Homo sapiens: one gene and its partner. The protein of the gene in region 2 interacts with the protein of the main gene of each other region in a pairwise test. Each region holds a gene or a part of one and is shown on either strand. Other genes may lie near its edges. The genes, in order: PRKAR2B and AKAP19.

Evidence for each region.
Region 1: the proteins of AKAP19 (region 2) and PRKAR2B interact in binary tests that used the Homo sapiens proteins (3 or more experiments, as listed by UniProt).

The regions. Positions count from the first base shown.
Region 1 is NC_000007.14:107,159,550-107,162,479, forward strand, and holds the end of PRKAR2B (cAMP-dependent protein kinase type II-beta regulatory subunit), read left to right. Parts: coding exon 1-33; 3' UTR 34-2,262; downstream 2,263-2,930. UniProt on the Homo sapiens protein: Regulatory subunit of the cAMP-dependent protein kinases involved in cAMP signaling in cells. Type II regulatory chains mediate membrane association by binding to anchoring proteins, including the MAP2 kinase.
Region 2 is NC_000002.12:190,197,606-190,204,050, reverse strand, and holds the end of AKAP19 (small membrane A-kinase anchor protein), read right to left. Parts: exon of another isoform or gene 4,355-6,445; 5' UTR 4,191-4,354; coding exon 3,903-4,190; 3' UTR 567-3,902; downstream 1-566.

The DNA of each region.
Region 1 (2,930 bases), on a different chromosome or scaffold from region 2:
ACGAACATGGATATTGTTGAACCCACTGCATGAAGCAAAAGTATGGAGCAAGACCTGTAGTGACAAAATTACACAGTAGTGGTTAGTCCACTGAGAATGTGTTTGTGTAGATGCCAAGCATTTTCTGTGATTTCAGGTTTTTTCCTTTTTTTACATTTACAACGTATCAATAAACAGTAGTGATTTAATAGTCAATAGGCTTTAACATCACTTTCTAAAGAGTAGTTCATAAAAAAATCAACATACTGATAAAATGACTTTGTACTCCACAAAATTATGACTGAAAGGTTTATTAAAATGATTGTAATATATAGAAAGTATCTGTGTTTAAGAAGATAATTAAAGGATGTTATCATAGGCTATATGTGTTTTACTTATTCAGACTGATAATCATATTAGTGACTATCCCCATGTAAGAGGGCACTTGGCAATTAAACATGCTACACAGCATGGCATCACTTTTTTTTATAACTCATTAAACACAGTAAAATTTTAATCATTTTTGTTTTAAAGTTTTCTAGCTTGATAAGTTATGTGCTGGCCTTGGCCTATTGGTGAAATGGTATAAAATATCATATGCAGTTTTAAAACTTTTTATATTTTTGCAATAAAGTACATTTTGACTTTGTTGGCATAATGTCAGTAACATACATATTCCAGTGGTTTTATGGACAGGCAATTTAGTCATTATGATAATAAGGAAAACAGTGTTTTAGATGAGAGATCATTAATGCATTTTTCCCTCATCAAGCATATATCTGCTTTTTTTTATTTTGCAATTCTCTGTATTCTATGTCTTTAAAAATTTGATCTTGACATTTAATGTCACAAAGTTTTGTTTTTTTAAAAAGTGATTTAAACTTAAGATCCGACATTTTTTGTATTCTTTAAGATTTTACACCTAAAAAATCTCTCCTATCCCAAAAATAATGTGGGATCCTTATCAGCATGCCCACAGTTTATTTCTTTGTTCTTCACTAGGCCTGCATAATACAGTCCTATGTAGACATCTGTTCCCTTGGGTTTCCGTTCTTTCTTAGGATGGTTGCCAACCCACAATCTCATTGATCAGCAGCCAATATGGGTTTGTTTGGTTTTTTTAATTCTTAAAAACATCCTCTAGAGGAATAGAAACAAATTTTTATGAGCATAACCCTATATAAAGACAAAATGAATTTCTGACCTTACCATATATACCATTAGGCCTTGCCATTGCTTTAATGTAGACTCATAGTTGAAATTAGTGCAGAAAGAACTCAGATGTACTAGATTTTCATTGTTCATTGATATGCTCAGTATGCTGCCACATAAGATGAATTTAATTATATTCAACCAAAGCAATATACTCTTACATGATTTCTAGGCCCCATGACCCAGTGTCTAGAGACATTAATTCTAACCAGTTGTTTGCTTTTAAATGAGTGATTTCATTTTGGGAAACAGGTTTCAAATGAATATATATACATGGGTAAAATTACTCTGTGCTAGTGTAGTCTTACTAGAGAATGTTTATGGTCCCACTTGTATATGAAAATGTGGTTAGAATGTTAATTGGATAATGTATATATAAGAAGTTAAAGTATGTAAAGTATAACTTCAGCCACATTTTTAGAACACTGTTTAACATTTTTGCAAAACCTTCTTGTAGGAAAAGAGAGCTCTCTACATGAAGATGACTTGTTTTATATTTCAGATTTTATTTTAAAAGCCATGTCTGTTAAACAAGAAAAAACACAAAAGAACTCCAGATTCCTGGTTCATCATTCTGTATTCTTACTCACTTTTTCAAGTTATCTATTTTGTTGCATAAACTAATTGTTAACTATTCATGGAACAGCAAACGCCTGTTTAATAAAGAACTTTGACCAAGGCTATAAATGCCACGTACATTATTTTCAGTATTGTTGGTTATATTTAAATTTTCCTTACAATAAAGCACACTTTTATAATAAAATACATGAATTATTGTTTTTCATACTTTTTTGCTTGTTTCTTTAAAGTTTTCTGACGTGCATAATGCATAATTCATTGAAAAGCATGATAGCAATGTGGCATGTGGAAGCGAACCCCCAGGGCATAACATAGTAAGAAAGTATGGTTCTGTATGGCAATAGGTTTTTAAAATTATTAGCTATTCATCATGTGTGGGAGAAATAATTGTGGTGTGTTGCAGATTTATTTGGCCATTTAGAATAACCAAATCAATCTGGCTAACTAGGAATTTATGTGTAAAATTATCTGATTAAAACAGCTCAAGTTTGACTTGTGGATGTCATTATTTAATTATTAATCAACACTCCTTACTATGTGAGAATTCTCTGTTGACCATTCATTCAAGGACAGAGCCTCTCGTGTATCATGCGTGGCTAAGGAAAGGGGTGAGGACTTTTTCCCCAAGAGTGACGGTGCTTTCCCTTATTTTAAATAAAGGTGTGTGTGTGTGTGTGTGTGTGTGTGTATGTATGTGTGTGTGTATTGTTTTCTACATATCCATATGTACTAGGGCTTAGTGCAGATATTTTAACATACACGTTACCTGTGACACAACTTAGGTGAATGTATATGTGTTACCATTAGGATTAGTATTATAAACTCTGGCTAAATGCCATTTAAAATGCTTTAAAAGGCCGGCACCATGGCTCATGCCTGTAATCCCAGGACTTTGGGAGGCTGAGGCAGGAGGATCACGAGGTCAAGAGATCGAGACCATCCTGGCCAATATAGTGAAACCCCGTCTCTATTAAAAATACAAAAATTAGCTGGGCGTGGTGGCATGTGCCTGTAGTCCCAGCTACTCAGGAGGCTGACGCAGGAGAATCGCTTGAACCTGGGAGGCAGAAGTTGGAGTGAGCCGAGATTGTGCCACTGCACTCCAGCCTGGTGACAGAGCGAGACTCCGTCCATAAAACAAACAAGCTTAAAAATTCTTC
Region 2 (6,445 bases):
ATTTATGATTTTGTTTTTTGTTTGTAATTTTTGTTTAATTTTAAAGGTAAGTTTATAAATTAACAAACAAAATTTATAATTTTTTGTTTGTAATTTTTGTTTATAAACAAAATAAATTTTTTGTAACTTGTTATAGTTTCTCCTTCATCCCATACTCTTTAGAAACTAAGTGAACTTCAGGTTTGTAAGAATAAAAAGCCAACGGAACTGAAAAAGACATTAAAGATCATGTCCTGCACCCTTCTCATAGATGAGGAAATGGCAGCCCAGAAGGTATTGCTTTATGTTTTCTCAGTTCTTAATCTGTTTTATGTGAAGCATTTTTCTTTCAAATAATTCAGTAACAGATCTGGAATAAAGATGCCATGATATCGGATACATTTACATTTATACTCTTAAAGGTCCTAAATTGGACCTGAATGATCCAAGAAATTATTTGTATAAATGGATTTTTGTTCTCTATATTTGTTAACAATGCAGAAAATGTTGTCTTTTATATTGTTAAAAAATTCAAAGTACACACTGTCAGAAAGCATTTGCTTCAGTTAAATAAGAGCTCACACTAGTTAATTGCAACTGGACTTTTATTGTGCAGTTACAACAACAAATGTTTTCAGAAAAATATTTGGAAAAAATATACCACTTCATAGCTAAGTCTTACAGAGAAGAGGATTTGCTAATAAAACTTAAGTTTTGAAAATTAAGATGCAGGTAGTGCTTCTGAACTAATGCCCACAGCTCCAAGGAAGACATGTCCTATTTAGTTATTCAAATACAAGTTGAGGGCATTGTGATTAAGCAAACAATATATTTGTTAGAACTTTGTTTTTAAATTACTGTTCCTTGACATTACTTATAAAGAGTCTCTAACTTTCGATTTCTAAAACTATGTAATACAAAAGTATAGTTTCCCCATTTGATAAAAGGCCAATGATACTGAGTAGGATATATGCGTATCATGCTACTTCATTCAGTGTGTCTGTTTTTAATACTAATAAGGCAGTTTGACAAATTATTTCTTTGGGACTAAGGTGATTATCATTTTTTTCCCCTTCAAAATTGTGCTTTAAGTGCTGATAACCACAGGCAGATTGCAAAGAACTGATAAGGCAACAAAAGTAGAGAATTTTAGGATCAAAGGCATGTAACTGAAAGGTAACAACAGTACATAAGCGACAACTGGGGAAGGCAGCAGTGAAACATGTTTGTGGGGTTAAGTGAGTCATTGTAAATAAGGAATTTGCACATTTATTTTCTCTGATAACCTGCTTCCATGTTGCCACCTGGAGGCTCTTTGTTGTGCTGGTAGAAGCCCATTTGCCCTTACTCTGGATGTTCCAAATGTTTCCCTTTCCAGGAGCTAGTCAGTCTTTCAGTCATCTGTTTTATATGTCTCCTGCCTTCTCAGACAGTCCTTCTACTCTCTTTTATTGTTCATGAAAGACCTTCAAATTGAAGTAAAGCCCATATTTCAATATAAAGATATGAAAGAAGGCTAATATCCTATCAGTGATATTCTCATCCATCTTGTCATGAAGGCCATACCATGATAACTATCACATGTAATGTAAATTTGTTTATTCATCTCTCTTATTCATTTATTCATCTTTTTTCATTTGTTTATTCATCTTTCTCCCATTTGCTCCTGTCTTGATTTATCCACTAGCTCACTGATTATGCAAGCCTTGTAGTTCATATATGTCATGGGTTAACATACAATACAGCATATATTTCAGACATAAGTGTTTCAGAAATATTGTACAGAAGATATTGTACTCTATTAAAATGTGATTCAGGGACAAGGGAGTGGTGCTTGGTGATAAAAGTATACTGCCATAGTTGCTGAGGAAGGGCAGCAACAGAAATCAGACTTCTAGTTGATATGGATCTGGCAGGCATCTCTGTCACACCCCTGGGAAATAGTGGCCCAGGGCACAGAAGGAACCTGAAATTAAAATATTTAGATACAACCAAAACTCACTTGTCTGTCCCTATGTATACTGAAAAGTTTAGTGGGGCATGCTGCTTTACCTGGCTTTGTGTTTTCACCATTGTACTTATTTTATATACCTAATTGTACATTTTAAGCAGCAGATGACCTTGCAGCAAAAATGTCTTGGTGTGAGATGCAAAATGAATGAAAAACAACCACACCTAGGCTTTTGTCACTCAACCTAAACTACTCTTCATGACCTGGAAATGTTTTATACTTATGGGAAACTTTCTGCCCTTAACCTTATAACTTCAGATCCTTGTATGAATGGGTTTGGTTGTTTTTCTATTATATAAATTGTAGATTGCAAGTACAATGGGACAGTACAAATCCCGGGACTCGGTAAAATTAGAGTTGAATGATGAGGTGTCCAAAGGCAACGAAAACATGGCATATTTCAAATAATGTTTTCCTTGCTTATGTAACTTGGAGAATTCACTCTATTTGATTGTGGGTTTCAAAGTATTAGTGTTAAAATTAGAGGTAGATTTTCTGCCTGCTTACAAGACAAATACATATTTATCTCATTAAAGAGGTCATAAGCCTTTTTTTTAACCTTTATATTTCAATACCAATGGTGTATTGTGGATCTAACATACACAGGCTTAAATAATTTCCTTTCCATTTAAACTCAATGTCTACCAAATCTTGATGAAAAGATAATTCTAGAAACTGAAGTCTTAATTTTCTAACAAGTCATGTCTTAATTTCTTCTTCTCCCTCCCAAATTTTCTGTTACCACTGATCTTCAAACAGTACTTAATCCTTTAAAACAAAAAGGTGTGTGTGTATGTGCTGTGACAGTAAAAATGAAAGAGAAAAAATAGCTTCCCTAAAAGGTAGCCAGGCTTATGGAAACAGTATAATAGGTGGCTATAAATGCCCTATAGGCTTGTGTTACCACTAAAAAATAACAAAAACCCAGAAAACGAGTACTCTCCTCAAAGGACAGTTTTATCTTTTCCGTTTTGCAATACAACTGTAAATCTTCATGCATTATCTGGTCTATTTTAATGGTGACCGCCTTACTAGTCAAGAAAAAACTGGAAATAAATGCCCATATTCCAGCCCTCTGTACCTCTGAGATAGTAAAGCTTAATACAGAATTAAAACTGAAACTTTCTACCTTGCAGACTAAGTTTCTGTTATTTTTAAGATTTATTGGATTGCTCTTTGTAAAAGGTACCCCTACTTGTTTTCTTGTATAGTTATATCACTGGGCTTAATTCAATGCAATAAACACTAATGTCATGGCTTCTATAAACTGTTATCTCTAAGATGGCTTTAGGCACAAAGTCTGAGTCGTCCAGTAACAGCTGTAATTAGTTAGGGCCCTGAGGTCCAAGGTGGTAGTTACACTTCTCATCTACAAAAATAAATATCTTATCTTATTAAAGACAGGGTTCATTTGTGTCAAGAAGTAGAGATCCTTGACAAACAAACAAGACTTACTGTTAATCACTATGATTTGAGTGCCATTCCCTCGCCAAGAAATTTTAGAAAAGCCCTTTTCATATCTGGACTTTTTTTGGGTATAAACAAACAAAAATTGTTATTTTAAAGGATAAACTTCAACCATTGGAATTTGGGGCAGTTTTTATTCCTTAGCATTTTCTTTGGTGATGCCATTACTTAGGAAGAAGTGCTGTGACATTCAGCTGATTATTGGGTGTCACAGGACCTCTGTTCAGCCCTTCAGATGACTAAAATCTAAGACTAAACAGAAATTGCTGTTAACATAGAAGTACTTAAAATGCATTTCATCCTAGTTGTTCTTATAATAGTGACATTATCGTAGACACATTTTTAAATCCAGATAGTTATTTGTACTTTTTCACACCAGTTTTTGCTTTTGTCACATTTATTCAAACTAGCACCTCCACAGTCAAAGTGTTGTCATCCTACAGCCTCAAGGCCCCTCACTCTCAATGTATGGAATGTCATGGTACTTGATGTTATTGCATGCCCATTGCTGCAAGGCATCACACAAGATATCCTGAGACAGGCGGTGTGCATATTCCAAGATCACAGTATTGGTCCCTGGAGGTTCCTTCACTTCCTCTTTGACATTAACTGGAGAAGCCATCCTAGGTAGACATCTCTCTTCTGGCATAAAGGGTTCTTCACTCTCATGCTGCTTCTCACCTTCATATATGGTAGGAAATGGGAAAGTTTGCTTTGATTTCATGCAGCCCATGTTATGAAGAGCTGTTTGTGGAGGAAGCAGTGGCAAAGACTACTTCCAGGCCATCTTTAGAAAACAATGAAATTTGTCCATGTGATGTTGACCAGTGCTTTCCCTCTCCAGGGCACTTCAGTAATCAATGTTCCCTTTCACCACTCTTCACGTGTAGTGTTTACCTGTCAAGAGAAGGTAGGTTTCATTTTGAAGTTACAGAATGCAAAATAGTGTATGATTGAGTGGCATGTAAAAATCCTTTCATCACTTTGGTCACATGGAAGAAATCTGAGGTAAAAACAAACAGCTTTATCTTATCAGTAGAAGAAAAAGATAATCACTCAATAAAAATGGCAACTTGCAAAATAGGAAAACTTTTTTTCAAGATCTTGCATATTTTATAAAACTGAAAACAATTCAATTTTTGCTAGCTTAGATTTATCTATACCAAAACAATTCAATTTTTGCTAGCTTAGATTTATCTATACCAAGGGCTAGCAAACCATTGGGCCAAATTCCAGCTACCTATTTTTGTACAGCCATGCTCACGTGTTTACATGTGTCCATGGCTGCGTTCATACTACAACAGCAGAACTGAATAACTGTGACAGACCATGTGGCCCACAAAGCTTAAAATATGTACTATCTGACCCTTTACAAAAAATGTTTGCTGAGTCCTGATCTATACTGTCAAGCAAAACAAGCACATCAAAATTTTGTTCCTCCCCAAACCTCATGAACCTACAGATCTTGGACTACTGTTAGAGTCTGGCTTTATCCCCTGGTCACATATTTACAACTCAAAGAGTAGTAAACAATGTTGGCTTTACTCTAGTGCCACGTCTAAACAATATAGGTTACATATAGCAAAGCCACCTATTGACTGTTCCCTGTGAAATTGTACAGAAGCTCAGATTAAGGTTAAAGGTTTTTCCTCCTAAATGTCTCATTCCTACCCTTGTTTGATGTTTGGTCAATAAATAGATGACAATGCTTGTGATGTGCCTTCTAAGCCTCCCAAGTGTGTGTTATCACAGAATGAACTCCTCTTAAGGGACTTAAGGATAACTAAAACAATACAAGACAGCTTCATTTTAAAGAGGACTGAGTGTAAGAAGCACAGGTAATCTCTATGAATGAGATTAATGGTCCCTGATTGTATCTTAGTTTTGGGACTAAAAACATAGCTCTAAAAATTCATAAAATCTGTTTCTGAAAACACCTTTTTTTTTTTTTTTTTTTTTTTTGAGACAGGGTCTTACTCTGTTAACTCAGTCTGGAGTAAAGGATGCAATCACGGCTCACTGTAGCCTGGACCTCCTGGGTTCAAGTGATCCTTCCACCTCAGCCCACTGAGTAGCTGGCCTGCAGGCACAAGTCACCATGCCTACCTAAGTTTTTGTAGAGACAGGGTTTTGCCATTTTGCCCAGGCTGGTCTTGAACTCCCGGGGTCAAGTGATCTGCCCACCTCAGCCTCCCAAAGTGCTTGGATTACTGGCGTGAGCCACTGTGCCTGGCCTGAAACCACTGATCTTAAGGCAAAAGCTTGCGTGCATCTAATTCATTTTTTAATAGTTTGTAATTAAGGATGTCCAGAGGAGGTGATGTTTGCCAGGTCTACCACCATATATTATTCTATAAATTCTACCCAGTTTCTCATAATACTACATCTGTTCCTACCCCTAATAAGAGTGATATGAGGGTAAGAAAGGAAAGGCAGTCTTCTGCTTTTAATTACCTTTAGTTCTGTATGCCCTGCTTCACGCTGCATACTTCAGAGATGTTAATTTTAAAAGGGAAACAAGTTATGTGTGGTGTCTGTCTTGTTTACTAGCCTGAACTGAAGATGGGGACTGTCTTGGTTGTTAATCATCAGCATGTTATGATTTTTCATAGTGTCTAGTTTTTACTGTGAGGGATGGTTAAGGGAATTGGACATGGTTAACCTGAAAAAAATTACTTGGAGAACTCAATGAGTGTCAGATAAATAAAAGGCTGTGAGTGGAACCATCAGTGGAACCATCAGAATATTCTGTTTTTTAAGACCTTTTGTTTTGCAAAAGCAGCTTTTTCTTACCCTAACAAAGTAGTGCCAGATTTGTGCATTTGCCAAAACCAGTTTTAAAACCAGACAAAATATATGTTGCCATTATTTTCAGGCATAGAGCAACAAGCAACACTGGATTGTGATCCCTGAGAGAAGAAAAACACAAGATGTTAAATCCCACAGATGGTCATTGTGGGATTCTACCTGGGGGTATCTCCCAGCATT